Regions from separate parts of the Homo sapiens genome. Here regions 1, 2, 3, 5, 6 and 7 are each reported to be linked to region 4. Evidence: microRNA targets listed by miRTarBase, many of them from high-throughput screens and not tested one by one. Region 4 holds a microRNA gene; each other region holds the end of a gene's coding sequence.

Region 1 (4,287 bases), not on the chromosome of region 4:
TGATACTGCACAGAGGTTTGTGAACTGGAAGTAGTAAATGACAAAGCTCTTAGCAGAGATACCCCTGTGAGAGAACAAATTGGGTTCCTCACGCTAAGGGCAGGCTCTGGCCTCCTACACCTCATCTTTCTTCTTGGTGGCAGGACAATCCATGGACTGATCTATAATGCCCTGAAGTTGTTTATGGAAATGAATCAGAAGCTGTTTGATGACTGCACACAACAATACAAGGCAGAGAAGCAGAAGTGAGTATCTCTCTCCCCGGGAGACTTTCATCTTCTACCACCAGCTCACTGTGTTTCTCTCAAGCCCAACCCCAATCCTACTTTTGCTCCTCAGGGGCCGGTTCCGAATGAAGGAAAGGGAAGAGATGTGGCAAAAAATCGAGGAGCTGGCCCGGCTTAATCCCCAGGTGAGGTTTTCCTGCCACTGTTGTGAACTGAGGGGCCAGCCCATCTTGAGCTGGGGGAGAGTTTGTTGGGGGAGGAATATGGGGCACACAGGCCCCCAAGCCTCTGAAGTGGCTCTTAACGCTTGTCCATGTCTCCTCACTCAGTATCCCATGTTCCGAGCCCCTCCACCACTGCCCCCTGTGTACTCGATGGAGACAGAGACCCCCACAGCTGAGGACATCCAGCTTCTGAAGAGGACTGTGGAGACTGAGGCTGTTCAGGTGGGAGGGCAATGTAGGGGGATGGAGCAGAAATAATAGCTCTGGAAGGGAGAGGAGACAGAAACAGCAGAGCCAAAGAATAAGGGGACGGAACAATAGAATTCACTGGGAATTGGTCACCATTCCTCACCTTGTCCCTATTCACACACAGATGCTAAAAGACATCAAGAAGGAGAAAGTGCTGCTGCGGAGGAAGTCGGAGCTGCCCCAGGACGTGTACACCATCAAGGCACTGGAGGCGCACAAGCGGGCGGAAGAGTTCCTAACTGCCAGCCAGGAGGCTCTCTGACCCCTCACGTTCCTACCACAGGGCCACAGCCCACACAGCCCTGGGACACTGCCCTGGCCCTCCATACTCTGCTCCCTACTGGCTGTCTTGGGGGAAGGCAGCGCCTCTCTAGCTACTCAAGGGAGGGGGATGTGGGCACTTGAAGCAGGGACACCCACAGAATGGTCCCTCTTCTCCCCAAAAGGTGTTCATGCCTCCCTGTGGCTAGTACAGGCTGAGCACTAAGATGCTTAGTGCTCAGACAACCTGGGGATGCCTGTCCCCTACCTGCTCCTCACCCACAGCTACCTGAGGCTGCTCTGAGAAGTACACACAGGAATACATACGCTCCTCTATTCTTCCCTTCATCCTCATTTGAACGCCAGGTATCTCCCCTCCTCTCTCTCCCCTGCAGAGGCATGTAGGGAACAGCAGGAGATTATTCTCACCAAAGTTATGTCAAGCCCCATTGGTCCCAGAGTAGCTGAAGGGAAGCCAACCCCCCTGCAGCACAAATAGGCCCCCCAGTCCCAGCCGTGTGCTGGCAGATAGGGTTGTATTATTTCTTCTTACCCCATGCCTGACCAAGGGAGGTCAAAAGGAGAAAAGTATAGGCTGTGGACAATAACTGATGAATATAGGGCCCAGATGGACCAAGTGGGGCCGGGGAGGGATGAATAAACACCCTACCCCGTGCCCTGTCTTTGGTGAGCAGCAGCCCTGGGGTCACAGACATGGAAGGGACCACCCTGGGGCTGACTGCTTTTCTGTGCTGTTGGTTCCCAAAACTAGAAAGAAGGAAGCAGGGAGCGGTGCCCCAAGCATGGCTCCTGCCAACACCTATTTATTTCCTTGTTTGTGCTATGCTGGGCAGGCCTTCTCTTGTCCCTTATAGGTACCTTGGAGGGGCCAGGGGCTGAGGAAGGCCGGACCCAGGTTCCAGGGGCGCAGGCAGTGCGGCTTTTGGCTGTGTACATAGGGTGCTTTATTCTCCACAGAGTGATACATGCTAAGGTGGGTTGGGCTTGGACCGATGTCCCCATATGTACAGAACTGAATAAAGTGGGTCTCTGAGAAGTCTGATGTGCCTTGATGTGGAAAGGGAGACGGGGAAGATGGAAATGGACATTACAACCAGGGATGTGTTCAGTCCTGTGCTGGTTCTGGCCTGGAATGTAGGAATATAAGGCAGCTCTCACTGTGGTCACTTCCAGGCAGGGGATGCCTGCCGGGCTTGGAGGGCTTTCTGTACCACATCTTCCCACTGGGCATCCGATATCTCCCGAGCCCAGGCAGGAACCCCTGGCGCAGGCAGGCTTACTCCAGCCATTGTCCTTTTCACCAGCTCTACATGTTCTGAAATCAGAGCCAGAGGCCATTCAGGCATAGAAATAATGGGACCAGCTCCCCTCCCCAATCCCCGAATCAACCCAGAGCCCTTGGGCTGCTAGGGTCACCAAATCCACCTTGTTACTTTAAGGCAAGCCTGCCCATCCCCAAAGCTAGCAAAAGAGCATTTCACTTGGACTCTGAAGTCTACAAAATCTTAGTTTACAAACTATCTTTTTAGGATAGGGTCTTCCTCTGAAACTTCCTTCTACTGACTCATGCCAGTTCATTTCCTTAGTAATTATTCCAGAATGAAAGAATGATCTTTTACCTGGGTCCATGGGAATAGAGCTGTGGTTGTTCAACGCTGTAGCTCCCTCCTCATCTTCATCTTCACTCTCTAATGGTGGGTCTGGCAAATGAAGCCCCAGGGCCTGCAGAGCCACAGAAGACCGTTTGGGTCTAGGCTTTCAGGGAGCCCAGCTTCACCTGTTCAGGAACCATCCCTCCTCCACCCTACCTGGATTCGATCCTGGATGTCAGCAACTACATCTCCATCCCCCACTGGTGCCAGTTCCACCTCCTCTTGTTCAGGATCTTGGTTCAGGGGCTGGTAGGAGTAGCCAGCTGGGCCCGACCCCGTTTCCTCCTGCTCTTCCTCAGGCTCCTCACTGCTCCAATCCCCAGTGCCTTCTGAAGGGCCCTGATGTCCCAGTTCCTCAGTCTGATTGGGGAAGATACGCTCAGGGCCCATGGTGTCTCCTCCTAGAACTACTGTTGCCATCCGGGCAGGGGCTGCAAGAACAGGGAGGCGGTAGGACAGGGATCGGATGAAACCAGGCCCATCTTCATCCTCTCATCATCTCCTTGTAGTCTCCTGCGTGCAAAAAACCAGCTCCTCCCCGAGGCTCCTGCATCCTCCACCCCTCCGCCCCAATTCCAGCCTCTCGTTCCTCCCCCTCCTAAGTCGGGGTTCTTATCTTGAACCAGGCCCCACCAACTTGCTCCGCCACTTCCTAGTTAAACGCCCAACCGGAGGCCCTGCCACCTCCTAAAAGACACCCCTTCCAGAACCCCGGCTCCCCGCGCCACGCCTCCCCCGCGACTTGGGAACTCTGGGTCATCAGACTCCCCTAAACAGGTCGGCGTACCCGCCCCCTTCTCCCCTCTCCTAGAGGACCCCCTCTGTACCGCCTGACAGATGCCTTTCAGGCCCCATGGGCTCCCCTCAAATGGCCCCAGCTGCAGCGTCCCCCACCCGCCCCCATCCGAATCCCGGCGCCGGTGTTCCCGCGCGCCTCACCCGCTCAGAGCCCGCGGCCTCCACTTCCGGCGGGGCAGGACGTGCAGAGGTGCCTAGTCCTCCAGCCCCGCCCCATATCCATGATTGACGCTGGCGAGGACGAGGAGTCCGCCCCTTGCCCCGCCTCCGTCATTCCCAGCCCAAAAAACAAAGGACTGCATTACCCAGTGGCCTCCTCGGTCTCGACACATATTTGCACATGCGCAGAATCTCTCCTACGCCCCTGCCCACTCCTCAGCCCTCTCGTCCCTCAGGAAACGTATGGACTACAAGTCCCGAAATGCCTCCGGCACTTAGCTACGACTGCACGTGCGCGCACAGCTGCCCGCCGGAAGAACCGAGCTTGGCTGTGTTTATCTCGTTGGGGACTAAGGCGTCGGTTGGCGCGCAACGGGTTCTAGGCTGCAGGCAGCTCGAGGACCCGCGGCCCCGCCCCGGCTCGGCCTGGCAGGTAGCCTGGGATGGGTAGAAGGGCAAGGGAGAATTAGGGGGCTTAGGACGTGCTGTCTGGAGCTGGAGTGGCGGGGGAGGGGCCTGAGAGTGATGAGGTGGGGGTGGGGAGGGAGCTAGGGGGATGATGGGAAAGGAGAGTGTTAATGGGGAAAGCAGGGCTAGGGGAGGATGGCGAGGAGATGGGTAGGAGAGACCTGGTGTCTGGAGGAAGCAATGAAGGAAATGGGAAGGAAGACTGGGCCATGAAAACAGGGAAGCTGA
Region 2 (4,286 bases), not on the chromosome of region 4:
AGGGAGCAGGGCAATTAGCAATCTGACCTTAAACCTAGGGCTAGGGAGTTCACATTCTCAGAAGGTAGAAACTCACAGCCATCCTTCCTGAGCTCCAAGGTGGGAGGGCAAGGGACAGGAGGGTTAGGCAGTGAGTGGGGGTGGGGGTAGAGTGGACCAGGAGTGGGAGGCTAAGCTGAGCCTTTCCCTCTCCAATCTAGGTTTCCCTTGTTCATGGCTGTGTACAAGGTGTGCTACGAGGGCCAGCCAGTGGGTGAATTCATCCACTGCCTGCAGAATCATCCAGAACATATGTGAGTGGGGCCAGGGCCCAGGCCAGGCCGCTTTTTTACCCCAGTGGAGACCAGCAGAAGCCTGGGGTACCTAGTCACCAGGATCTCCAGGACTCCCAGGGAGCAGAGTCTTCTCATCTTTTCACTGGAGGACAGGAGGCTATGGGGCCCAGCTACGCACCTGGAGATCCTGAACTGTCAAGCCACTGGCAGCCTCATGCCACCACATTTGCCAGAAATGCAGTTGCCCTGTCCCTCTCCAGATGTGGGGCTTTCTCCATATCCTCTGGGAGGGGTGGAATCAAGCCCCAGTGCTGCCTGCTTGGTGGCGGGGGTGATGTATGTGGAGAAGGGTTGGGGGAGAGGCCGGTAGGGCAGGGGCTGCTAGTGGCTGTCTCACATACACCAGTAATCCTGTTAAAGGGCTGAAGAAGTATCTTAGCCACAGGAGCGATGAGGCAAGGATTGTCAGGGAGGGGTCTGGGCTTCTGAGCTGATGCAGGCCCCAAGGACCCCTTTGCTGACCTCTGCCAGGACCCACACAGCTTCGATGGATCTCAGTGTTTGTTAACAAAATACAAAGATCTCAAACAAACCCCTTTTAGCTTCTCCTAGCAACATCTGTGTCCTCAGAAACCTCTGGTTCTCCCCCTTCCCCCTCCCCCAGGCTGCCCTGGCACCCAAATTGCTGCCATGCTGGCATCTGTAGCTCGGTGGCTTGACATTCTCCCCAGGGACTTCCCGGTTCCTAGTTCTTTGCCAGCTCCTCCCCACTCTGTGCGACCTTTCCAAGCCTTCCCTCACCCTCCCCGCCAGCACCCTCTTTGGGGAGCAGGAACTTAATCTGCTGACAGAGCTACACCTTTCATAACAGGCTCAGATCACTCAGCTCCCTGTGACCTTTGTATTCACCCAGGCTTCCTTCTCAGTAGCTCTAGCTGGGGGAGGTGTCAGCTGGGCCCCTCCTGTGCTATCTCCCCAGAGGACATCCCTGACTCCACCCCTTTCTTCCTCCCAAACTCTGCACCTCTTCCTCAGCTGCTCCAGACCGGCCAGGGTAACCAGCTAACCATGCCTGGCATCTGGAAGCCAGCAGGCCAGAGGGTGGCCCAAAGGCTGATGAACGGTAGGGAAGGGTGAGCAGATTCCTATGTTGGTGGGCACCAATATTCCAAGGGCAGCTCTCTTTGCTGAATGAGGGCCTTCTCGTGAGGTACTGACAACACCAGCAACTCGAGAGCTGGGAAACTCAAGGAGGAGGAAGAAAATCAAAACCACCCTACTCCCTGGGGTGAGGAAAGAACAGGAGGGGAGGAGGAGGAGTGTGCTCTGCACTTGCCTTGCTCCAGGATGGGGTGGCAGCAGAGGAATGTCACAGGTCAGCAGCCTAGGCCTCCAGCTATAAATAGTCCGGAGGGCCCGAGAGGCTCCCGCCCGTCCAGCAGGGCTGTCAGCTTCCTGTGTGGCAGCACCTGGCACACTGGCTCTGGCCAGCATTATGCTAAAACCCTGTTACTCTCCAATGAACCAGGGAGGCGGGCTCCTCTCTGCGCCTATCCCTTGAGAATTCTGTCTTACCAGTGAAGGGTGGGGCTGCCCAGATCAGGCAGCAGGAGTGAGGGGCACAGTCACCCCAGGCCTTGCTGAGCCCAGGTCTGGGTACTGAGTGTCCAGAGCTGCCTCCCCAGGAGGTTAAGGTGGGGGCAAAGGGGAAGCTTCAAGCACTTTGCCTACTTTTGTTCACTCCCCAGTGCACTGTGACTCAGGCCTTCCCATCAGGCCTATTTGTCTACCCAATAAAGCGTGTTTTTTCCAGAAACAAGAAGAGTTGGGAGAGGGAGCTTCAGTGCATGTGGCAGTGCGTGTGCTGGCGCGTATCATTGCACGTATGTTTTCCCTCTTACCGTAGGAAAAATGAAAAAAGAAATCCCTCCTCCATAATCGCAGCTACTCCAGGGGTCAGCGGCGGTGCCCACTCAGTCCCCATCCCTCTCTCTCCCCTCCCGCCAGCGCCCCCTCCCGCCCTCGCCGCAAGCTGGCCCCGGCCTTGCCGGCCCTTCTTAGGGGCTTTATCATGCCTCCTGCAAGAATAGAGATCACACACGGGACGGAAACGTTAGACTCTCATCCCTTGTGCCCATTCCTTGGTCACGGGCCAAGCTGCCGCATCCTTAGCGGTCCAGGCATCGCGGTGCCCCTCGGGCCCCTACCTGGACTAGGCCCACAGCCGGGCTCTAGGGGGCGCGCGATCCACCTCCAGAAGGCCGGCTGCGAAAATCTACCCAGCTACTGGCGACGTCACCGCACCGTAGGCTGAGGATTGGCTGACTCTGATTTAGCATCCTAAAACTTCCGGTTCCAGAGCTTGGCTCGCCAAAGACCCTCCCTCGAGGGAGAGAAACCACAGCCCCCAGAATTCAGCGGGCCTCTCCGAGAGCACGGCGCGTCTGAGGATGCGTAGTAAGGATAACGGGCCCGGAAGCCGGAAGTTCAAAGCCGGCCTCCAGCCAGAGTGACGGCCTGCGCGGACTCCCGCCTTAGTGGGCGGAGTTGTGCCGCGTCTGATGCGCAGTTCCCTTTATAGCGCGGCAAGCCGAATCCTAGAGGCTAACCCGGCAGGTGGGAGGGAGAAAGTTGCTTTCTGCACCAATAGCTGAGGCGTTCAGGGTTGTCCAGGGACGCTACCCTCACGTGTCTGGTTCCGAGTGCTGCGTTCGGCTGTGCTGGGAAGTTGCGTAGACAGTGGCCTCGAGACCCTGCCTGCCTGAGGAGGCCTCGGTTGGATGCGAAGGAGCTGCAGCATCCAGGTACGCTGCCGGCTAGGGCCGAGCAGGGGCTGCCAGTCCCACTGCCTGCGCGCCCACCTGGGCCAGTCTCCGCTTGCCGCGTCCTCCCATCCCCTAGTCTGCAGGCCTGGTGCCCTTGAATTCACCCGCTTCTGTTGCGTTGCGGACCGCGAGCTGCACTGCTTCCTGCCCAAGCCCAAGCTCCTCGCAGCAGTAGGTCAGTCTTGCTAGAGCTCAGCGCTAATCCTGTCAAACCTCGACTCCTGCCTGGCGTCTCGACCCTCCACGCTCCAACTCTGCCTCTTCCTTGCTCTATAGACCTCTGCGTCCTGATAAGTGGCTCTCCGGGGCACCCTTCGTGCATATCGGCTATCCAGCTCCACCTCTTGACCGCTTTCACTTCCTGGAATGCTCTCACTGCTCCTCTTCTCCAGGCCATCCTTCTAAAAAGACAGTTCCACTCCCACCCCGATTCCCACCCCTACACCTTTCTGCTAAGTTTTCTCAAGCCCCCACCCTGTCTTTGAGCTGTTGTCTCTGAACTCTCACAGTGCCTCTCCATGAGACCATAAGCTCCTGTATGACAGAAGCCATGTTCTTTTTAGCGGCCTCCGTAGCATGATGTACGTTATGTTATGTTATGTTATGTTATGTTATGTTATGTTATTTTGAGACAGGGTCTTGCTTTGTCGCTCAGGCTGCAGGTGTGCGCCACCACGCCCGGGTAATTTTTAAAAAAAGGTTTTTTTTTTGTTGTTGTTGTTGTTGTTTTTAAATAGAGAAAAGGTCTCCCTATGTTGCCCAACCTGGTCTCCAACTCCTGAGCTCAAGCCATCCTCCCGCCTCGGCCTCCCAAAGTGTTGGGATTACCGGCGTGAGCCACCGTACCCGGCCGATGTACTACTCTCTAAGTGCCAAACAAAAAGTAGATAAAAGATGATGGATACCTTAAAAGCCCTGAGTTGACCACTATGCAGTGTATGCATGTAACAAAATCGCACTTCTACCCATACGTTTACGCAATTTTTTTTTTTTTTTTTTGAGACGGAGTCTTGCTCTGTCGCCCAGGCTGGGGTCCCGTGGCGGGATCTCGGCTCACTACAAGCTCCGCCTTCCGGGTTCATGCCATTCTCCTGCCTCAGCCTCCAGAGTAGCTGGGACTACAGGTGCCCGCCACCACGCCCGGCTAATTTTTTGTGTTTTTAGTAGAGATGGGGTTTCACTGTGT
Region 3 (4,287 bases), not on the chromosome of region 4:
TTTTTATGCTAAAACACTGAATTGTGTCTTTCCTGTACTGTAATATATCTGTTGGTTATTTGTGTTTTTATAGTCTGATTTTTTTTTTTAAGCAGGGGAGGTTTTAGTTTGTTTTAGCTGCGACCATGAATTTCTGGAGCTAGTGAAGTTAAAGATTATGCTTTAGGAAGGATGGTACATAAAAAAAGATTAATGGCATTCATTTGGAATTATAGTTAATGGTATCCATTATGGGGGGTACTTTTTAAAAAATACTCTGGGTAAGCTGTTAATTTAAAAAAATATTGATTTTGTAACTTGTTTATTTTTTAAAAAATGCAAAATATTCTGGAATGCTATTACATCAAGAACTTAGAGCTTTAAATTATATATAAATCCTGTTCATATGTATTTGTTTATGTGTGTGCCTCCTAAGTATAGTACCAAGTTTCATAAACTAGTATTTCTGTACTCTTATTTTTCTATCTCAGCTTTCCCAAACTCAGAAGCAAACCCTCTAAATGCCTATTATTTGAAATGTCTTGAAAACCTCGTGCAGCTCCTTAATTCTTCCTGAGTGCCATGGGATGCTACACCTTGAAGCTGACAGTCATCAACAGGGGAGCTAAAGTTGAAGCCAGCTGTGTGTAGCAGCTGTTACCTGAAGACGTGCTACCTCTCTACAAAGTGTTGATCCCCTTCTTTCCCATGAGAGAGAGAACTGGTGATACTCCAACACCGTCCAGTTGTGGCAGCTCTCCAGAAGTAATAGCAGCTGACAACTTTCTGTGCCTTTTCCTTTCTGTTGAAAAGGCATAGAAAGTTCTGGGAACATAAACATTTTTACCCTTTTCTATGCCATTTATTTTGTAAAAATCCTATTTAACAGTTATTTAATAAAACAATATTTTTAGAAACTAAAAATTGACTAATAATTGCTGCTTACAGACTTTTATCAGTCTCATGAATATTAATTTTAGGAGTTGAAATAAGACACTGTGTCCTGGTTGTTTCTCTCTTTTTTTAAATTTTAACTGATGTAAAATTTGGCTCTGTCAGTGCAAATCCTTATTTTCAAAACTTTCTGTTATCCAGAGCATCCACACTGGAAAAGGGCTATGTAGAAGTAAGTGTGCATTATTTGTAAAGGGCTGTGTGGAAGTAAATGTACATGATTTGTAAGTAGCTTTCTTAGGCAAGTTTTAGTGATGTTATCTTCTTCCTAGATGACTCTTAAATCATTACATGTATAATCTTCACCGTTGTCTTCTGCAAGGCTGTGTAATAAAGAAGAAAGAAATAGAGTTGGGGCTGTATAAGCCTGGGTTCAAATTTAGCTCAGCCCAAAACATCATGAAGAATAGAGTAAGACTGAAAAATGCAGAAGATGGCCGGGCTTGGTGGCTCATGCTTATACTTTCAGCTCTTTGGGAGACCGAGGTAGGTGGATCACTTGAGGCCAGGAGTTTGAGACCAGCTTGGGCAACTTGGTGAAATCCCATCTCTCCTAAAAATACAAAAATTAGCCATTCCTGGTCTTGAGCGTCTATAATCTCAGCTACTCCAGTGGCTGAGGCACGAGAATCTCTTCAACCTGGGAGGCAGGGAGGTTGCAGTGAGCTGAGATCATGCCACTGCATTCCAGCGTGGGTGACAAAGCAAGACTCTGTCTCAAAAAAAAAAAAAAAAAAAAAAAATGCAGGAGGAACAAGCTCTATACTCTATTACATAATCTTACTTAACCTGTAGTTTTGAATTCCGCACTTAAACCAAAATCAAGTACTAATCACTTTCAGCAACTTTCCCAACACTTTTGAAAGTGAGAAAATTGTGTGTAAGAGAAATAAAAGGTGAAGTATTAATATATATATGTTTGTATATACATATATGTCATATACATGTATACATATATATTCATTTAGGATAATGTTTTCAGAAAAACTGAAAGAAAAATATCATTTTAAGTGCTGTTAAATTGCTAACAGCAATAAAATAAGCAATGATGTTATTTAAGCTGGAAGTATGACAAAATTTATGTTAAATACAGAAATAGTAACAGTTAAGTTTGTAATGTCTGAGAATTAATTGATTCGAGATCTGAAAAATAAATCTAGGAAGCTCAGAAGTTTCTGAGCTGCCCAAGTTAATGTGTAGCGGAAAACTCGTCAATTCTGAGAGCAGGAATCTTGGGAATTATTTTTCCCTTTTCTCCCGATATCTTATATTTTTTGCCATTTTTCTGGAATTCTCTAATCAGCCCTCACTGATAAATAAATGAAATGAATTTCTAACTCCCTTCATAACTCCTTTATAACTCCTCCTTCTATGTCCCAGCTATTATTCTCGGAACTTTTATCATTTAATCTATCTTTTTCTAAAATACTACTAATGTCTTTGTGTTCCAGGTGAATAAGCGGAGGCGCAGAGCGGTTAAGTAATGTGCTCATTGACTGTGGCTGGTTATCAGTGAAGTGGAGGTTGGAACCCAGGATAACTGCGAAGAAGTTTGCTTTTCTTTATAAACCACTTTTCTTTATAAACCATTTATTCTGCCCCTCTACCACCCCCACTGAAATATCTCTTTTTGTGTTTGAATCTTATAGATAAACACCATTTTTCAACAAAAATTTGTTCTCTTCAGGGAAATTATATTATGGTTCATTGATTGACTGATTCACATATCAGAGTAGGCACTACCTCATCTTCTTGGAACCAGGAAGAATTGTTGTAACTGATCATTTTCCCTAGCAGTTCACAGTAGTACCAGAGGGAGATTTGTAGCCTAGTAGTCAGAACCACCCAGAAATGTTACCTGCCAAAGCCCAGGAGGACTGCAGACCTTGGAGAAAGGAGAGGGGCCATGGCTTTAGGGGAACTTGCGTTTGCCTCTCTTGGTGTCCAGGAATGTGAAGCTCGGGTGCACGCTGTGGTCCAGATCCTGGGGGACAGTCCTTGCAACTGGGTCTCCTGGGATTATGCACCGTCAGCCAGTGGGGAAGACGTCTCAGCAGGAGCCTTGAGGTGACTGGCCCACTGCTGTAGCAGCTGCCCTGCCTCTCCCTTGCGGACCAGCATCAGAATCCTCAGGTGTGTGCACTGAAATGCAGATTCCTGGGCTCAATGAGGCAGACTTGTGTCTAGGAGAATTTTTAGCAAGCTCTCCAGGTTCTGCTCACCACAGTTTGAGAACCACTGATTAATCCCCATGATTACAGAAAACTGCCTAGAACACGAAAATTATTTCATATCACTTAACTGCTGCCTGATGAAATCAGGACTTGAATCTGGGTCTCTTGAATGTGAACCAAGTATTTTTTCTTTCACACCTGCCCAAGTTTAAGCAAGGATCCAGGAAATAGGTGCAGGGGACTAGTTCATACTTCATGGTGTCCAATTTCTCCATATCCTAGCATTTTTGGTGGGCTGAGTTAGTGTATGTGCGCTATGGAAGCACAAAAAGGTAGTGCCACGTCACACATGAAGTGCAGACATTGATACTGAGGCTTCTGGGCTTAAGACTTGAGCAGTTTGAGGGAGGAGGCAGCCATTAGTTTTGAAAACAGGAAGCTAGTAGGAAAGTGGTGTTAGCAGACCTGGCTAGACCCTTTTGCCACTCTTCCTAAAAACACTTACAGAAATGAATAGCTGAATGTACCTCTTTTTTTGGTGTTCTATAAATAATGGAGCAAAAAAAAAAAAAAAACAAAACAGAATTTTGCCTATTTAACTCCAGATCACCAATTTTCCTTTGTAGTGTTAAATGGACTCTTCATCCGTGTCATTTTGCATCATCAGTCTTTGGGGCTGCACCTTGTGTATTCCCCATTTCTTGAGGTTGCCAGAGCCCCAGGTCTGCTTCTTGACCCGTGATGTTCCTCGGATTTGCCAGAGTGATGGGTAAGAGTAATGACTGGCATCCCCGCTTCTGCATTAAGATCTGCTTGCAGTTATCTCAGTGAATGAGAGAGCATAATAGAGCGGTTAAGAGTAGAGGGCTCTTGAGTCCTGTGGACCAGGAATTAACCCTGGCCTCACCACTGCAATTGTTGGAAACCTGGGACAGGCTCAAGCTAACTGGGGTTGAGGACACCTACCTTGTGCAGTTGGTGAGAGGACTGAGTGCTTAGCCTGGTACATAGTTATCCCTTAGATGTTATCAGTGATTTTTTATTCTTACAAAATTCTCAAAAACATCTGTTTAAGCAAAAACTTCAAATCTTTTGTGTCCTTGCAAACTTTCCTCCCCTCTGGGAGGGGATGTGCTGGAAAGTGAGTTGGGCTGTGACAACTAAGGTTCCAGCATCCCAA
Region 4 (4,244 bases):
CCTTGGTGTTTGTTCTCAGATGGTGGTGGGGAAGGGGGCTGGGCCTTGTGGACCCGGTGACCAGCCAGCCCACGGTGACAGAGCCCCCGGCGCCCTTGCCTTCCCGCAGCATGTGGTCCTGTACCCGCTGGTGGCCAAGAGTCTCCGCAACATCGCGGTGGGCAAGGACCCCCTGGAGGGCCAGCGGCACTGCTGCGGTGTTGCACAGATGCGTGAACACAGCTCCCTGGGCCATGCTGACCTGGACGCCCTGCAGCAGAACCCCCAGCCCCTCATCTTCCACATGGAGATGCTGAAGGTGAGGGGCCACCGCGCCTGGTCTCACCAGGCCCCCACTGCCCAGCCTCAGGGCGGCGCTGGCCTGTCCACCCAGGGGTGGTGGGATCCGCAGGTGGACTGCTGGGGGAGCGGACAGAGACAAGAAAACCTGTGCAGGACCCTTGGCAGTACCCTGGGTCTCCTTTCCTCCTCCTTCACATCTCAAATGTCACCTCCTCCAGGAAACCGGCCCTGCCCACCCGGTCTCCTCATTCTCTGTCTCGCAGCAGCTCATTTCCTTTATAGCCTCTGCCGCACCTTGAAGTCCCTTGGAATTCATGGATTTCCTTGTCCATTTAGGGAACCTGCCATGCAGCATGATCTCTGCGAGGGCAGGGCTTTTCACCGTCTTGTTCACTGTTCTATTCTTAGCACTTGGCACAGTGCTGGGCACACAGGAGATGTGACATCGATGTTTGATGCTTTTTGAGTGACAAGTAGCTCTGCTGCTGGTGTGTGATGTCTGGGGGCCCAGCCAGCCCAGATGTGGGTCAGGTCTGCTGCTGACGGACGCAGCTGTGGTGTCCCCGAGCCCCGCTGTGATATGCCCCATGCCCTGCAGGTGGAGAGCCCTGGCACGTACCAGCAGGACCCATGGGCCATGACAGACGAAGAGAAGGCAAAGGCAGTGCCACTTATCCACCAGGAGGGCAACCGGTTGTACCGCGAGGGGCATGTGAAGGAGGCTGCTGCCAAGTACTACGATGCCATTGCCTGCCTCAAGAACCTGCAGATGAAGGTACTGCCTGGAGGCTGAGGGGGAGGATGGATGGAGGGGGGTGTGGAGCCAGGGGGCCCAGGTCTACAGCTTCTCCCCGCTCCCTGCCCCCATACTCCCAGGAACAGCCTGGGTCCCCTGAATGGATCCAGCTGGACCAGCAGATCACGCCGCTGCTGCTCAACTACTGCCAGTGCAAGCTGGTGGTCGAGGAGTACTACGAGGTGCTGGACCACTGCTCTTCCATCCTCAACAAGTACGACGGTGAGCACCGGGCCCTGGGCTGCCGGGGGCTGCGAGTGGTCAGAGAGTGGCCTTTCTCCTGTCACTGCTGGGGTCAAGACCTAGCCTTTCACAACCCCCATTCTGAGCTCCCACGGGGGCCTGACTAAATGCCTCTACTCGGCAGGGCTGTGGGCCCCATTGTGCCAATGAAGCATGAATGGTGTATTGGGGGTGGGGTGGCATCCTCAGGTCAGGGAGGGCTCTCTCTCCCCTGTGGGCCCATGGTGCCAGGAGACATGAGGGCAGGCAGCTGGCCAGGATCCCCCCTCATGCCCTTGCATGCCCACTGCCCACTGGCCTCCCCTGCAGACAACGTCAAGGCCTACTTCAAGCGGGGCAAGGCCCACGCGGCCGTGTGGAATGCCCAGGAGGCCCAGGCTGACTTTGCCAAAGTGCTGGAGCTGGACCCAGCCCTGGCGCCTGTGGTGAGCCGAGAGCTGCGGGCCCTGGAGGCACGGATCCGGCAGAAGGACGAAGAGGACAAAGCCCGGTTCCGGGGGATCTTCTCCCATTGACAGGAGCACTTGGCCCTGCCTTACCTGCCAAGCCCACTGCTGCAGCTGCCAGCCCCCCTGCCCGTGCTGCGTCATGCTTCTGTGTATATAAAGGCCTTTATTTATCTCTCTCTGAGTCTGCTGAGCTGCTCCACTGGGAGAGCCGGGTCATCACCTGGCATTCCTGGTACTTGGGTGGCTGTTGGGAGGCAAAGAATCAGGGTTCAAATCCTAGCCCCTCCACCCACCAGCTCTGAGGCTCTGGTGTCCCTGTTAGAGAAATTACGATGAGCTCTTTCACCAAGGAAGTGTCTCTCGCTGGCCAGGGCTGGGGCGCCCCAGGAGCCCACAGTCTTAAGGGGGAGATGAAGTGGGTACAAGCTAGGTAGCTGGGCACCTGAGGGAGGTAGTCTCCTGGTGCTGCCCTCCCACTCCAGCCTCGGATCCCATGGTCTCCTGGCCTCGGTGTCTGGGGGCAGGGTTTCCATGAGAAGCTACGCTGGGGCTGAGGTGAGCCGGGTTGGGCTGGGGTGGGCTGACTGTCCAGAAAGAGGAGAGGGCCGAGCGCTTCGTGAGACCTTTTGAGGCCCAGGCCCCCATCCTGACCTGCCTGTGACATGGATGGCCCTGGGCGTGGGTTTCGTGCGACCTTTTGAGGCCCAGGCCCCCATCCTGACCCTGCCTGTGAGCTGGATGGCCCTGGGTGTGTGTTGGCCTCTCTGTGCACATCAGTGTCCCCTGTTGAACTGGAAACTGGGCTGGCTGCCCTGTGATGCCAGGCATGGGGTGAGTGGGTGGGGTGCAGGTGGCGTTTATTTTCATGGATTTATACACACTGGAAAAGCCTCTGCGCCCATGCCCACGCCCTCCTCCCTCCCCCCGGCGCTGGGTCCCCTCATATGAAAGGGAAGTAACACCGAGGAGCACACGGAGATATAGGGTGTGGGGCTGGGGGGGCCAGCGCTGGGGCCAAAAGTCTGGGTCCCCAGCCTCCCACACGCAGCCCCTCGGGCCCCTTGGGTGTGTCAATAAATAACCCAGGTCCAGGCTGGTGTGGGCCTCACTCCTCGCTGTCCAGCTTCAGGCTGATGCTCCGTGCTTTGCCCCGTGCCAGGGTGGTGGGTGGTGTTCCCGGGCCCTCACGCTCCGCCTGGCTGGGGCCCCTCGAGCGAAGCAGCTGGCTCTGTTTGCGCAGGAAGTCCACGGGGGCAGCCACACCATAGCTGCTCTTGCCCAAGGCAGCTCTCGGGGGTCCCGAGGAGGCATGCGAGTGCGAGCCCGCTTCCAGCTGGCCCAGGTGGGCCACATAGCCGTCTGACAGGAACTGTGGGCAGAGGTAGGCAGCGATGAGGGGGTGCTGGCCAAGGGCCCACACGCTGCCCTCCACGGTCCTCCAGAGGCACCTGAGGCAGGCTGGGGGACTGGTGGCAGGCTTGGCACAGCCTGAGCTGAAGCCTTCTCAATAGATAGGACCCCAGGCTGGGAGCCAGGGCACCTTGGCTGTGCTCCTAGCTCTGCCCTTCTCTGGGCCTCAGTCTCCTCATCTGGAAAATGGGGTCTTAGAGGAAAAATAACAGCAGCCAATGTTTAGCCAGCACTTGCTTTGTGCCCAGCCCTGTGCCTGTTGATGTGATCTTCATAAGCTGACATGGGCAGTGCCATGATCATTTCCATTTACAGATGGGAAGCTGAGGCTCAGAAAGGTCACAGTGGAAAGCCATGGCCGAGTGGAACCAGCGCCTAGGGTCTTGAGCACTTTCCAGTGTGGGCTGTCCCCTCTGGCTTGCCTGGCAGCTGGCAGCTCAAGCTGCTCATGGCCCTTGTCCTCGGAGGATCCCAGGTTCCCTGGAGGCCGGTTAGGCCTTCTCACATCTTCCCCAGAGTCCGTGGTTCCCAAGGCCTGGGACTGAGGGCCCTGCCCCCTGGTGGGGTCCTGTTCCTGGCCTTCACTTGGGCCTCACCTGGCACTGCGCCTGTAGCTTCCGCACGGCACGGCCCACGATGTAGGTCTGGCTCGGGGACAGCCCCAGCGCCGCGTATACAGCCACATCTTTGGGAGACCCATAACCGGCCACGATGTTCAGTTCTACCTGTGGCGGGAGATGCCAATCAGCCGCCCCAGGGGTGGAGCCGTGCAGCTGGGGGCGGGGCCTGTTGGGCTTCCCCAGATTGTTCTGGGGGTGGGTCCAGGCAGACGGAGGCGAAGACAGGTCCCAGTCCCACGGGGACAGGGGCGGGACCAGCTGCATCTCCCTAGTTGCCCCTAAGTACACGGGGCCCCTCAAACTAGGGGAGCAGGACCGTAGCGGGCCGCTGCAGTCAGGCAGGGCCCGGGCCGATCCAGTTGGGAACAGATGGGCCTCCGCCGATCCGGGGGTGGAGGGTAAGGGGGAGCGGGGGCGGGGTCAGGACCCGGAGCCTCCCCCAGC
Region 5 (4,253 bases), not on the chromosome of region 4:
GTTTTTTTTTTTTGAGTTGAGTCTCACTCTGTCACCCAGGCTGGAGTGCAGTGGCGCGATCTCAGCTCACTGCAACCTCCACCTCCTGGGTTCAAGCAATTCTCGTGCCTCAGCCTCCCGAGTAGCTGGGATTCAGGAATGTGCCAACATGCCCGGCTAATTTTTGTATTTTTAGTAGAGACGGGGTTTTGCCATGTTGGCCAGGCTGGTCTCGATCTCCTAACATCATGTGATCAGTCCACCTTGGCCTCTCAAAGTGCTGGGATGACAGGCGTGAGCTGGCCTGGGTCACTCCCAGTTTTAAACACAGCCCACTCAGGACCCACTCGGTCAGTTCCCTCTGCTCCAGCTTCTCCCCCTCTTCCAGAAGGAACTGAAATGCTGTTTCAGGCCAGGCGCGGTGGCTCACGCCTGTAATCCCAGCACTTTGGGAGGCCGAGGCGGGCGGATTACCTGAGGTCAGGAGTTCAAGATCAGCCTGGGCAACTTGGAGAAACCCCGTCTCCACTAAAATACAAAAATTAGCCAGGCGTGGGTGGTGGGCACATGTAATCCCAGCTACTTCGGAAGCTGAGGCAGGATCATTGGTTGAGCCTGGGAGGTAGAAGTTGCAGTGAGCCGAGATTGCACCACTGCACTCCGTCAGGGTGACGGAGCTAGACTGTCTCCGAAAGAAAAGAAAAGAAAAAAGAAGAGAAAAGAAGAAAAGAAAAGTTTCAGAACCTGTTTCTTGGCTTTCTATCTGGGCAGATCTTGGTCCAGGCCAGTTTTACCTCTTTAGAGAAGGGAGGTGAGGATGGAAGTCGGGGAAAGCCCGGCCCTCCCACTTTCACCTGCAGCTTCCCAAAAGCGGGCCCAGGTGGAATGGTCACCCAGTTTACACAATGCTATGATCTCTGGTGTGATCTGGGGCTGCTCTGAGAGGGGATAGAGAGGGTCTCCCACTATCAACGCCACCTCTGGGATGGTCTGGGCCTCTGTGTAGAGATCGTCACCCTCCCAGCCTCTGCTCAGCCATCGCCTCTCCCTCCTCACTCTGCAGCTGGGGTAATCCAAGCCTCTCACTCTGCCCCTACTACTTCACCACCCTGGGCAGTCAGCCCCTCACTGGCTGTGGCATCTCTGGCAAGTCCCTTTGCTTACCCCTGGCCTTAGTTTCCCCAGCTCATAGGGTGACTCTTGGGCCTCTCCCCATCAGAACCCTCCCAGTTTCCCTCCTGATTTTAATAAGCTCTGTACCCATTGTGGAGATCCACATGGTGGTTCAGGTACAGCCTCAGGATGCCTTCATCACCTTGCAGCTCCTCTAATGAGAGAGCTACAGTCGGAAGGACAGACTGCAGGCTACTGGGACCCACCCCCTCCCGCTTCAGTGGCAGATCCTGGAAGAGAAACCCAGTAGAAAAGGGTGGTTCCTAGACTGTTCCTCTCAGCTAGCAGGAAGGCCAAATGGCCCGCGGGGTTGGCAGGAGTCCCAGGGTACTTTTTTTCTGAGAAAGGGTCTCACTCTGTCATCCAGGCTGGAGTGTAGTGGCGCGATCACGGCTCGCTGCAGCCTCGACCTCCAGGGCTCAGGTGATCCTCCTGCCTCAGCCTCCCAAGTAGCTGGGACTACAGGCATGCATCACCGCACCTGGCTAATTTTTTATTTTACTTTTGTAGAGATGGGGTCTCACTATGTTGCCCAGGCTGGTCTTCAGCTCCTGGGCTCAAAGAGATCCCTCCTGCCCTGGTCTCCCAAAGTGCTGGGATTACAGGTGTGAGCCACTGCACCTGGACGCCAGCGTACTCTTGGGGTGAGGAGGAATAGTGGGCTGAATGGCTTGAATGGTGTGCCCCCAACAGACAAGTCCACATACTAACCCCCAGGACCTGTGCTTATGACAGTTTATTTGGAAAAAGTGTTTTTTCAGATGTAATTAAGGGTCTTGAGGTGGGATCATCCTGAACTTAAGATGGGCCCTAAATGCAATGACAGGTGTTCTTGTAAGAGACAAAATAGAAGAGGGAAAAGGCCATGTGAAGCTGCAGGCAGAGCCAAGGAAGGCCTGGAATCACCAGGAGCTGGAAGAGGGAGCGTGTCCCTGTCAGCACCTTGGTTTCAGACTTCTGGACTCCAGAACTGTGTGAATTAAATTCCTGTTGGACTTAAGCCATCAAGTTCACCACCCAATGGTGATCTGTTATGGCAGTCCAAGGAAATTAATCAAGCAGTTAAGGCCAACTGCTGGCCTAATTGGTAGGATGGGGGTGGGACCGGGGGCTATGGAGGCAGGAGGGTACTGCTACATGAAGACAGGCTGTCGGGTCAGTCCAGAGCTCCGAGGAAAGAAAGCAAGAGCACACAGATTAGGAGACACGGATGGAAGATGAAGGATGTGACAATTGAATCCATGGGCTTGGATTCGACTGGGTCCCTGAGAAATGCTACTGAGCAAGGTGGGGAAGGCAAGAAAGGACATGCCACACAGTACAAGCTCCAGGGACTCTGAGGACAGGAAAATAGGGGGCTGAGGCTGAAGGACAGGCTGGATTAGCCCTAGTTAGGATCAAATTTCCCACCACGGAAAGGGGGGTTGGAGGACATTCACAGAAAAGATCCTGTAGTGCCATTCCAGTGGGTTGTGCCATAGACTCAAGGATGAGGGGGTTCTGTTGGAATAGTCCACTTCGGGTCTCAAGGGAAGGTACAATGATTCCAGGGATTGACTGCAGGCCAGGACCTTTTGTGGGTTTTTTTAAGATGGAGTTTTGCTCGTTACCCAGGCTGGCATGCAATTGCGCAATCTCGGCTCACTGCAACCTCTGCCTCCCGGGTTCAAGCAATTCTCCTGTCTCAGCCTCCCAAGTAGCTGGGATTACAGGTGCATGCCACCATGCCCAGCTAATTTATGTATTTTTAGTAGAGACGGGGTTTCATCATATTGGTCAGGCTGGTCTCGAGCTCCCGATCTCCCGACCTCCCGACTTCAAATGACCCGCCCACCTCGACCTTCCAAAGTGCTGGGATTGCAGGTGTGAGCCACCGTGCCCAGCCAGGATTTTTTTTTTTTTTTTGAGACACAGTCTTGCTCTGTCACCCGGGCTGGAATACAGTGGTACAATCTTGGCCTCCACCTCCCAAGTTCAAGCAATTCTCCTGCCTCAGCCTCCCAAGTAGCTAGGATTACAGGCACCCACCACCACGCCCGGTTAACTTTTGGTTTTAAGACGGTGTCTTGCTCTGTTGCCCAGGCTAGGGTGCAATGGTGCCATCTTGGCTCACCGCAACCTCCACCTCATGGGTTCAAGCAATTCTCCTGCCTCAGCCTCCCGAGTAGCTGGGATTACAAGCGCACCCCACCACACCCGGCTAATTTTTGTATTTTTAGTAGAGACGGAGTTTCACCATGTTGGCCAGGCTGGTCTGGAACTCCTGACCTCAAGTGATCCGCCCGCCTCGGCCTCCCAAGGTGCTAGGATTACAGGCGTGAGCCACCGCTCCCAGCCGCACCGTTTTTTTCCTCCTTAAGAGAGCACTGATGCTCAGCTAGAGCTGACCTTAGAAGGTGAGGGGGAGAAAAGGCCACTGCAACACACTGCATTTCCTTACAGTGGTCTGTGCCGATTGACAAAAAGAAGAAGGTGTTCCAGTGTAACAGATGAGTGTCCCAGTAAAGGTTAACACTGATCAGGTAAACCGGGGGTGGGGGTAACAATAACACATTGATTCAGCTCAAGACCAGGTTCCATTTTTTCATTTGCCAGAGTGCCCACGGTGTCCTGCTGGCTGGGACCTTGCAGGTCGTCCTGGTTTGGAGTGGGGGATAGGAGGTGAAGGATGATGGAGGGGGCTATGTTGCAACGCTTCACCTGCTGGTCCCAGTGGCAGGTAACGGCTGCTCTTATCAGCAGGGGTAACCAAATGCCAAGTTGCATCAAGATCCTGGTGGTTTCCACTGGGCCAGCGCAGGCAAGGGTGGTGCGGGAAGAAGGCCACGTTAGGTACATAGGCCATGTCCAAATTCAGGTTCCATCCAGCAAGCTCCTATTTCTTGGACGCAGGCACTGCGTGGGAAGCGGACCGGCCGGGATTGCAGAGCTGGGCGCGCACCTCTTGCAGCTCTGTGCGCAGTTCCTCCAGGGCGCCCTGTGGCGGCGCCGCCTGCACCTGCGCCTGCAGCGCTTCCAGCGCCAGCGCCAGGTGGCCCACCTCGTCCCGCAGCGCGTTCCAGGCAGCACGCTGCTCCTCCTCCTTGTGGCGCTGCTGCGCC
Region 6 (4,287 bases), not on the chromosome of region 4:
GACACGTGCGTGTGCAGAGACGTGTGCGTGTGGATGTGCGTGTGCAGAGACGGGTGTGTGTGGACACGTGTGTGCAGAGACGGGTGCACTTGACTCCATGCGTGTGTGCAGAGACGGGTGCGTGTGGACACGCGTGTGTGCAGAGACGGGTGTGTGTGGACACGCATGTGCAGAGACGGGTGCGTGTGAACACGTGTGTGTGCAGATGGGTGCGCATGACTCCACGCGTGTGTGCAGAGACGGATGTGTGTGGACACGCGTGTGTGCAGAGACGGGTGTGTGTGGACACGCATGTGCAGAGACGGGTGTGTGTGGACACTTTGTGCAGAGACGGGTGCGCGTGACTCCATGCGTGTGTGCAGAGACGGGTGCGTGTGGACACGCGGGTGTGCAGAGACGGGTGCGTGTGGACACGTGCGTGTGTAGAGACGTGTGCGTGTGGACGTGCGTGTGCAGAGACGGGTGTGTGGACACTTGTGTGTGCAGAGACGGGTGCGCGTGACTCCATGCATGTGTGCAGAGACGGGTGCATGTGGACACGCGTGTGTGCAGAGATGGATGTGTGTGGACACGCATGTGCAGAGACGGGTGCGTGTGGACACGTGTGTGTGCAGAGATGGGTGCGCATGACTCCACGCGTGTGTGCAGAGACGGGTGCGCGTGATTCCACGCATGTGTGTGCAGAGACGGGTGCGTGTGGACACGCGTGTGTGCAGAGACGGGTGCGCATGGCTCCACGCATGTGCAGAGACGGGTGTGCGTGACTCCACACGTGTTTGCAGAGACGGGTGCATGTGAACACGTGTGTGTGCAGAGACGGGTGTGCGTGACTCGCGTGTGTGCAGAGACGGGTGCGCGTGACTCCACACATGTATGCAGAGACGGGTGTGCATGACCACGCGTGTGTACAGAGATAGGAGCGTGTGGACATGTGTGTGTGCAGAGAGGGGTGCGTGTGGACACGTGTGTGTGCAGAGACGGGAGCGCGTGGACATGCGTGTGCAGAGACGGGAATGTGTGGACACTCGTGTGCAGACAGGTGTGTGTGGACACGCGTGTGTGAGGAGACGGGTGCGCGTGACTCCACGCATGTGTGCAGAGGGGTGCGTGTGGACACACGTGTGTGCAGAGACGGGTGCGCGTCACTCCATGCGTGTGTGCAGAGACGGGTGCGCGACTCCATGCGTGTGTGCAGAAACGGGTGCATGTGGACACGTGTGTGTGCAGAGAAGGGTGCACGTGACTCACGCGTGTGTGCAGAGATGTGTGCCCGTGACTCACACACGGACCTGCAGCCCTGAGCTCCTTCCCCAGAAGTCCCAGCCACAGCAGCCGGTGCGGAGACACGGGTGGGGCTGTGGGGTGGTGCAGGTTTTCTGCTGGGCCGAGGGTCCTGGGGGAGCCGGTTTTCCTCCCCCAGGCTCTCCATAAACGAGAGACAGAGGGTTTGGGGGCAGAATCTTGCGCAGAGACCCTGGAGCACCCTAGCAAGGCTGTGGCTCGAGGCGGTGGGTAACAGCACTTGCCGGAGCAGCCCCTCCTCTGGCCTTTGCTCCATGCATGCATTGGGTCACCAACGTTCACCGGGCGTCTTTATGCCAGCGTCTGTGCCAGGAGCAGGGGGCAGTGTGGACCAGGAGCCCTCCCGCCTGGAGCTGACCTCAGGGAGGCCAGGTGGACAGCCAGCAGGACACAGGGTGTGGGTGTGGCCCTCAAAGGCCAACCCAGGAACGGGCCGTGGGTGAAACCAACTGGGGCCCCGGGGAACAGCATTCCACGCAGCGGGATCAGTAGGGCAGAATCCCTGAGGCCAGAGCGTGCCTGGTGTGTCTGAGGACAGCATGGGGCCGGGTGGGGTTGGGGGCTGCAGAGGGAGACACAGACTTCCACACACGGAGGGGGAAGGCAGCGTGAGGACCAGCACTAAATCCCAGTAGGGAAAACAGAAGCAGAGATAAGCCACCAGGAAAAGATGAAAATCCTCACGGACTCCAGCCCCAGGCTCTCCTCCTGGGTTTCCTGCCTGGGTGCGCAGGGGACATGGCGACCGCACTACCGATTTCAAAGTGACTTTGAGGCTGGGCTCAGGGGCTCATGCCTGTAATCCCAACACTTTGGGAGGCCAGAGTGGGAGAATCGCTTGAGCCCAGGAGGTCGAGCCGTGATCGCGACCGTGTACTCCAGCCTGGGCGGCAGATCTAGACCCTATCTCCAAAAAAAAAAAAAAAAAAAAGAGAAAAGAAAAAAGAGAAAGAAAAACTTTGACCTGAAGACACGCCAATGCTCTTCAGCCTGTGTAGGCAGGTGTGACCCCCGTGCGGGGGTCCCGGGCGCTGTGCCCACAGAACAGGGTCTGACCCAGCACGCGGACGGAACCTTATTTTAACCCGAGACACAAACGCGCCCCTCTTGGACCCTGGCTCCGGCCCGACCCTCAGGGCGGCCGGCTGTGCGAGGCCTCGGTCACCGGGCGCCGCCGCGTCCCTGCGGGGTCTCCACCTGGCTGGGGGCTCCCCCCCGTCTTCATCTCGAGGACGCCTTAGGGACGTTTTGGGGCTTAAAGCCACTAAAGACGTTTCTTTCAGATTTTTGTTTTCCATTTTAAAAATTGCATTTGGAGCTACTTGGAGGTTTGTGAGTCGGTTTGTTTTCTTCATTTCAGATATTCGAGTCATGGAACTTTTTCAAAGAACTGAAGGGGGATTCCCGGTGATTTTTCCACCCCATACAGATGAAGACATCAAAGGGCCCCGCCGCAGTGACGAAGACAAAAGCATGAACAGATCTGGGTCCAAAGAGGCTCGGCAGGTGCGGTGGGCACGAGGGAGCGACCCCCGGGTGGCCGAGGGACTGAGGGATGCGCGTCCAGCCCCGGAGGGCGGCGTCCACCTGACCCCCCAGCCCGAGCCGCCGCCGCCGCCTCCCAGCCCGGCCTGCGCTGCCCCCTGGCGGTGGGGCCAGGAGCCATCCCAGCCTCTAAGCCCCCGACCCTACCTCGGCCCCCGGGGCTGCCGCGGAAGGGCCCCCAAAGCCTGCTCATAGCCAAGGGACAGGTATGTGGCCAAGGCCCCCCACAGCCCTGAACTGGAGTGTGTCTGAGGCTCCGGCAGGGGCCCCCTCACTTGGGCGCGGAGCCCTGGGAGTGGAGAGAGCGGACCCCACACCTGGGGCCGGACCAGCCTGGGGTGGCAGAAAGGGAGTCCGGGTCTGTGGGTTTGATGAGGGCAGAGGGAGGGGCATGCGTCCTGGTAAGTCGGGTGCTGCGGAGGTGAGGTGGTTCCATTTTGGAAACTGAGGAAGCAGAGCTTGGAAGACCTGGGGGGTGGAGGGGAAGGGTCTGCACGCACCCAGGAGTGGGTGACACAGAGGCCCAGCCTGCCAAGCAAGCCGGTGTCTGTGCCCTCCGGGTGGGACGAGAGACCCAGGCCCCGCCACCCAAGGTCGGCACTCAGGGCTGGCTCTCCTGTGTCCTCTCTGCCTTGCAGGCGGCTATGGGTCTGCGGCATATGGAAACAAGGGTTGGGGGGACAGCAGCTCCAGGGCTCCAAGTGGTGAGGGTTTGAACACCAGTGCCAGCGGCCTTGGGGTGGGCTCGGAGTCTGGGGTCCACAGTTCAGCGGAGGCTCTGCTCAGGCCCTGCTGGGCTCCCGCTCTGAGGGCTGCGACCTTCATCTGGGGTTCTAGGAGGAAGAACTTCTTCTGCAGGGGGAGGAAGGAGGTGCCTGTGTGAGCCGCGCGCCCCCGTGCCCACAGCTCTGCCCTGGGGCGTGCGTTCACACTCACGGGCATACGTGCTCATGCACACCCCCACCCCCAGGCACACTCCCAGCCCTCGCCTGGGTTCTGAAACTGCTGGAGGTTGAACCCACTCCCCAAGGCACCCTCAGCAAGAGGCTCCCTTGGCTCAGAAACTCCAAGTTCCGTCCCTGATGGAGACCACGCACCCTGCCATGCTGCCCTCCAGGGAGTCCTGGGGACAGTGAGAGCTTGCAGGAAGGGCAGGGCGGGTCTGGGTGGGGAGCCTGGCTCTGTATTCTTGACCATAGCCGGCTGGGCCCCTGGCGGGGACTGGCTCTCTGGGACCGGTGCTCCCCCCACCCTCTCCTGGAGCCCCAGCAGGTGCAGGACAGTAAGGCTGACCTCAGCCTGGGGCAGCCCCACCCAAGACTCCCCACCCCGCACAAACTGGGGTGCAGGGCCTCCTACCTCCCGGCGTTGCTGGGAACAGCGGCACCTGTACCAGGCGAACATGACCAGAGCGACCAAGAGGATGAAGACAGCAGTGAC
Region 7 (4,287 bases), not on the chromosome of region 4:
CAATATTCCATGGGCTTCTTCTGGACAAAGGATCGGCATAAATACAAACAAACCTCTGGACCTTCTTCCCTAACCGACGAAGATGAAACACAGGAGGCAAGGGGCACGGGCACGCCTTCATATTTACACTTTGCCTTTACTTTACAGTTCAGTGCCAGAAATATTTACAGAAAATACAATAAGAAAAAATCATGTCTTGGCAACATACTGAAATTCATACAAACTGTATATATGATTTCAAGCAAATAATGATACTGCTTATTTTTTAGCCACAACTGCCAAGCCCTTCAGAGGAGAAAGATGTCTTGGTCACTATAAGAGATGAGGACTTGGGAAACTTGGTTTGCTTCAACAAGTATTTACTGGGCGCCTACTATATGCAAGGCACTGTGGAATCCCAAATTATACCTTTTCCCTCACCATTAAAAAAAGAAAAGCATCTGAAGAACATGAGTTGATATTCTGAGAAACACACTAGAAGTACATGGCTTCTTTAGCTACTAAGAAACCCACCGTTTGATTCCACATCGTACGGATAGACCACCTCCAATCTCTCCAACTCAGGAAAAGAGGCTGTCATGGAAATCTTTAAAACAGACCATCTGACTCCAATGTCATTTCATGTAAACACAGCAATCAGTTCTTTTCAGGAAGAGAGAACCTGAATGGGCTTTAAAATGGTGAATAGAGAACTACTGCCAGCAGCAGTGTCAAATTACCTCCAATACATGTTTCTTTTTTTATTATTTATTTATTTATTTATTTTTACCACCTACCACAAAACACATCTTTGAGCAAGGCTAACTTCCACTTTGGGTAAAGCTCCACCTTCCAGAAGAAATGAATACTCTTAAAGACTCTGCCTCTCTAGAACCCAGTCTGCAGAGTCTGACAAATGCTTCCCTAGTGTATGGAGAAGGTAACCGTTCATGAAGGCCTCATACACAGAACCTGCAGCAGGTAACTGACATTACTGGCCAAAGGTGTGGGTACTTGTATTCATCAATGAATCCAGAGGAAAATGGGCTGCTCTGAAATAAAGGATCTGGAAATGAAGGAAAATGTGCATGAGTATGCGAGTGTGTGTGTGTGTGTGTGTGTGTGTGTGTGTGTCTGATTAGTCCTTTCAAAGGCCCAATGGATGGAAGAGGGTCTCAAGAGGAAGCCCTAGACAAAAAGGAAAGCTAGCTAAATAAGGAAAGGATTAACAAGGTAAAAGCCCTCCTCACTGTCCTCAGTGCTCCCAACCAGAGGGGAGGAGAAAAGCTCCCTCCTGCAACTTAAGAAGGCAGTAGAAGGGAAACCTTACTTACCACCTTCCTCTTCACGGAATGCCACACTCATCCACCCCCGGCATACCCAACAGATATAGCAACTGAACTGTTTAAGCCACAGACAAAAGTGGTCCTGGTTTCCCCCCAGAGGCTAGAACATATGCTGGCAAATTTATCAATGGACTACTAAATATTAATATTAGGTGCTAAATATGTTCCTCCAGTGCTATTCTACTCAAAGTGATTTTTAACAAAGGCAGGTGGGTAAAAATAGTGACCATGAACTCAAATCCATACTAGTGAAAGAGCTAAGCGTTCTTCCCACTCCCTCTTTGGGCAGATGTTATTGTGAGCAGAAGGAACCAGCGCCTGGTAAGGTATGGGTATCCCATATTCCACTGGCTCCGTACACACTGGGAGTTTCATGCCTTCAGGGGCTGCACATCCTTCCTTCCCTGGAAGACGAGGAAGTCTCCCAGATCACAAATGCATTCAACATGATTGTTCATGTATCAAATACATTGGAATTACAAGGAGTTGCCAGAATTTAGAGCTAACTGAAGGATCAGCAAGACCAACCCTCATACACACACACATACAGCACATTTTTCTGAAATTAACTATGCCAAAAGTAAAAGTTTGATCTGAAGAATCACACTGAAGAAGTACATCTGCATCAGTTATTTTTAACCTCTGGAATGCTGTAAGTTACATATTAATTTATAGCCTTCTCTGCTCACTTCAACTAGAACAAGAGCCCATTTTCCCCTCAAAATGTCAATCTAGAATTACCTTGAAAGTTATTAAACCTCATCTTCTTCCTGTGAACTACTAGAACATTTTTAGGGTAGAATTTGCTCATCTTTATCCTATATGCCCTCTCCCATGTTACCATCTGGAAACATCAATTTATTGCCCAGCTTAAAAAGAAAATCAACTATTGAATAATACTATAACCTGAATGGAAACTGGAGTCATAGAAAGAGGAGGTTATCTTTACCTGAGCTTAAAACAAACATGAACAGGTTATGGCAAACTTTAAACCAAGAGCTGCTATGCCCATATTTCTTGCTTATAGATGACAAAATGCACATTTCTGGAATAAGAGACATTTGCACAGGGAATTAGGTCTCACACTATCCCCACTCCGTAAGTAAACCACCAAAACATCAAACCAAACAGATGGTTGTAGCTCTGACCCACAGTCGACTGACATCAGAGTTCAAGTGGGAAAACACCCCTTATACAACTGTGATCATTCCTCTTTGGACTTTAAATATCACTTATTTTCTTAAAATAATCTTACTAAAGAAGAAAGCACATGAGAATAGGATAAATGAGCAGTGTATACTGTAGCACTGTAACAGGAATCCTTGGATGTTCTGGGTCTGGCCACCTCAAAAGTTTTATCCCTGCAGAAAAGTAGCAGCGAGGTAATAGAAGTATTTCCAAAACCTGGCAGGGATCTGTTGGCTGGCAAAGTCCAGAAAACATGACAACAGCCATTTCTAACAGTAGCCACCCAAAGAGGTGGTCACTCATGTTTGTCAATTATGAGGAAATCCAGTAGTTCTCTGGGAGAGATCTGAATTAGTAGCGTTGAGAGGCTATTCCTGAACCCCATATTAGAATCCTTCACAAACTACTGCAGTTTGCTGCTTGGTCCTGAAATAAGAGACAATGGATGAAACCAAATAATTTTCAACCCTTATTGTGAATTTACATTTCTTTAAATAATATTTAATCAATGAATCACAAATATTTAACCTGTCATTATGTCACCCCGCTGGACAATAATGGAGAGAGTGGGGTATCACTGCTGTCTTATAACTTTTAACCCCACAAACTTTATTTGCATCCCCATTAAAGGACAAGGCCATGCTCCATTTCTGATCTGTTCCTGGGTCACTCAGAAACTGAGGCTTTCAGACAGATCTGTGCAGTGATGAGAAGGACAACTTTTTGAAATGTGGAGAAAAAAATATGACATCTTTTAATGTCAGGCTTCTTATCTGAGCAAAAAACATGTATCATCTTTTCTTTTTGTCAGTGTGACAGCTGGATGACAAGAAGACCTACAACTGAGTAGAAGGCTGTGACTTCTTTCCTTCTCCTCCATGCTATCAACATGAGTCTTTAAATGTCCTGTAAGATTCTGAGATTTTAATTTTGAATACAACCTCCTAAAAAGTGAGGTAAAAAACTATCTTCAACTTCTATATTGCAAATTTGTTGATACTACCAATGCACGTGTTTAACTGAGATGCATAAAAGCCTTTCTCCTCAAAAGGCTTATGTTTAACTAAAATTGTCACTTTTAAAAGAAAGTTTATGGCTAAAATGTATATCATCATTATCAGCAGGAGTGTGATTGTGTCTGGGAGCCCATTTCACTAGATAGCCCAAAGTCTTCTATCAAATGGGTTATAATGTGTTTCTTCTATTCTGGTGATTAAACAGTAAGCTCTTGGGAGTGATTTGTTTTTATTTTTACAGTGATCACCTATCAAACTGTTCTGCTGTGTTATAGTTCCCAAACTGGAGTTCAACAGTCTTAGAAATTCAGTGGTCTAAGAACTGCAGTTCTTGAGTCCAACCTCCTGGAAAAGTGAAGTATAAAACTCTGGCTCCAGCTGCTTGTTCCGGTACTTGTTGACAATGTCGGTGATTTTCTGTTTCCGGCGGACATGGGGGGGACTGTAGGAGTCACTTTCCAGTCTCTTTCTTCTACAAATGTTAATTACAGTCTGCCTCACCAGAAAGCCTTGAAAATAGAGAGTTTTAAAATAAACGTTAGAAACTAGTCACTTACGTAGGTGAACTGTAAGTATTCAGGTGAACTATTCTCCGCATACTCAAAACTATTTCATTCAATTTGCAAACTTCCCATCCCCAGAGAGATAGACATAGTGCTAAGATAAAACTGTCAGAAGAAACACACAATGACAAGGAAAAGGAGAATCAAAATCTATTCTAAAAACCTATTTTCTGTCCTGGATTACAAACAGCTATC

Evidence for each region. Region 4 holds the annotated microRNA hsa-miR-6752-3p (UCCCUGCCCCCAUACUCCCAG, at 1,138-1,158, shown strand). A microRNA usually pairs through its seed, bases 2 to 8, with sites in the 3' UTR of a target mRNA and lowers its output. Matches are read on the target gene's strand: a 7mer-m8 pairs with bases 2 to 8, a 7mer-A1 pairs with bases 2 to 7 and ends in A, and an 8mer does both.
Region 1: miRTarBase lists PPP2R5D as a target of hsa-miR-6752-3p. Seed matches in the 3' UTR shown: 7mer-A1 at 1,107-1,113 and 7mer-A1 at 1,744-1,750.
Region 2: the mRNA of GPD1 is a reported target of hsa-miR-6752-3p. Seed matches in the 3' UTR shown: 7mer-m8 at 646-652.
Region 3: the mRNA of RTTN is a reported target of hsa-miR-6752-3p. Seed matches in the 3' UTR shown: 8mer at 1,580-1,587.
Region 5: the mRNA of OPA3 is a reported target of hsa-miR-6752-3p. The part of its 3' UTR that is shown has no 7-base or 8-base seed match.
Region 6: the mRNA of SECTM1 is a reported target of hsa-miR-6752-3p. Seed matches in the 3' UTR shown: 7mer-A1 at 2,482-2,488.
Region 7: miRTarBase lists RALGAPB as a target of hsa-miR-6752-3p. Seed matches in the 3' UTR shown: 7mer-A1 at 2,684-2,690.

What each region holds. Positions count from the first base shown.
Region 1 is chr6:43,010,325-43,014,611 of GRCh38, forward strand. It overlaps PPP2R5D (protein phosphatase 2 regulatory subunit B'delta), which reads left to right. Exons shown (of 16, transcript NM_006245.4): 13 at 144-245; 14 at 340-412; 15 at 557-673; 16 at 825-2,018. The coding sequence ends at 962. MEA1 (male-enhanced antigen 1) reads right to left here and starts at 3,622. Exons shown (of 4, transcript NM_014623.4): 1 at 3,462-3,622; 2 at 2,791-3,065; 3 at 2,602-2,704; 4 at 819-2,297. The coding sequence starts at 3,489. The coding sequence ends at 2,146. KLHDC3 (kelch domain containing 3) reads left to right here and starts at 3,925. Exons shown (of 11, transcript NM_057161.4): 1 at 3,925-4,024. RefSeq lists enhancers at 1,290-1,790, 3,754-3,873 and a silencer at 3,494-3,543.
Region 2 is chr12:50,109,223-50,113,508 of GRCh38, forward strand. GPD1 (glycerol-3-phosphate dehydrogenase 1) reads left to right here. Exons shown (of 8, transcript NM_005276.4): 8 at 201-2,091. The coding sequence ends at 297. COX14 (cytochrome c oxidase assembly factor COX14) reads left to right here and starts at 3,014. Exons shown (of 2, transcript NM_032901.4): 1 at 3,014-3,079. RefSeq lists enhancers at 2,454-2,503, 2,564-2,823, 3,044-3,283, 3,294-3,343.
Region 3 is chr18:70,000,420-70,004,706 of GRCh38, reverse strand. RTTN (rotatin) reads left to right here. Exons shown (of 49, transcript NM_173630.4): 49 at 471-1,676. The coding sequence ends at 556. Among named protein-coding and RNA genes, the nearest start is that of CD226, 55 kb to the right of the region's middle.
Region 4 is chr11:67,489,158-67,493,401 of GRCh38, forward strand. It overlaps MIR6752 (microRNA 6752), which reads left to right and starts at 1,088; the gene lies at 1,088-1,158. It overlaps AIP (AHR interacting HSP90 co-chaperone), which reads left to right. Exons shown (of 6, transcript NM_003977.4): 3 at 110-298; 4 at 881-1,057; 5 at 1,159-1,300; 6 at 1,631-1,946. The coding sequence ends at 1,836. It overlaps PITPNM1 (phosphatidylinositol transfer protein membrane associated 1), which reads right to left. Exons shown (of 24, transcript NM_004910.3): 23 at 3,777-3,905; 24 at 2,611-3,139. The coding sequence ends at 2,876.
Region 5 is chr19:45,549,487-45,553,739 of GRCh38, forward strand. It overlaps OPA3 (outer mitochondrial membrane lipid metabolism regulator OPA3), which reads right to left. Exons shown (of 2, transcript NM_025136.4): 2 at 1-4,253. The coding sequence ends at 4,028. Among named protein-coding and RNA genes, the nearest start is that of OPA3, 33 kb to the right of the region's middle. RefSeq lists enhancers at 3,535-4,165, 4,166-4,253.
Region 6 is chr17:82,318,672-82,322,958 of GRCh38, forward strand. It overlaps SECTM1 (secreted and transmembrane 1), which reads right to left. Exons shown (of 5, transcript NM_003004.3): 4 at 4,207-4,287; 5 at 2,353-3,699. The coding sequence ends at 3,490. Among named protein-coding and RNA genes, the nearest start is that of CD7, 3.2 kb to the left of the region's middle. RefSeq lists silencers at 2,741-2,920, 2,931-3,080.
Region 7 is chr20:38,574,525-38,578,811 of GRCh38, reverse strand. RALGAPB (Ral GTPase activating protein non-catalytic subunit beta) reads right to left here. Exons shown (of 30, transcript NM_020336.4): 30 at 1-4,038. The coding sequence ends at 3,845. Among named protein-coding and RNA genes, the nearest start is that of ADIG, 4.5 kb to the left of the region's middle. RefSeq lists a silencer at 880-1,080.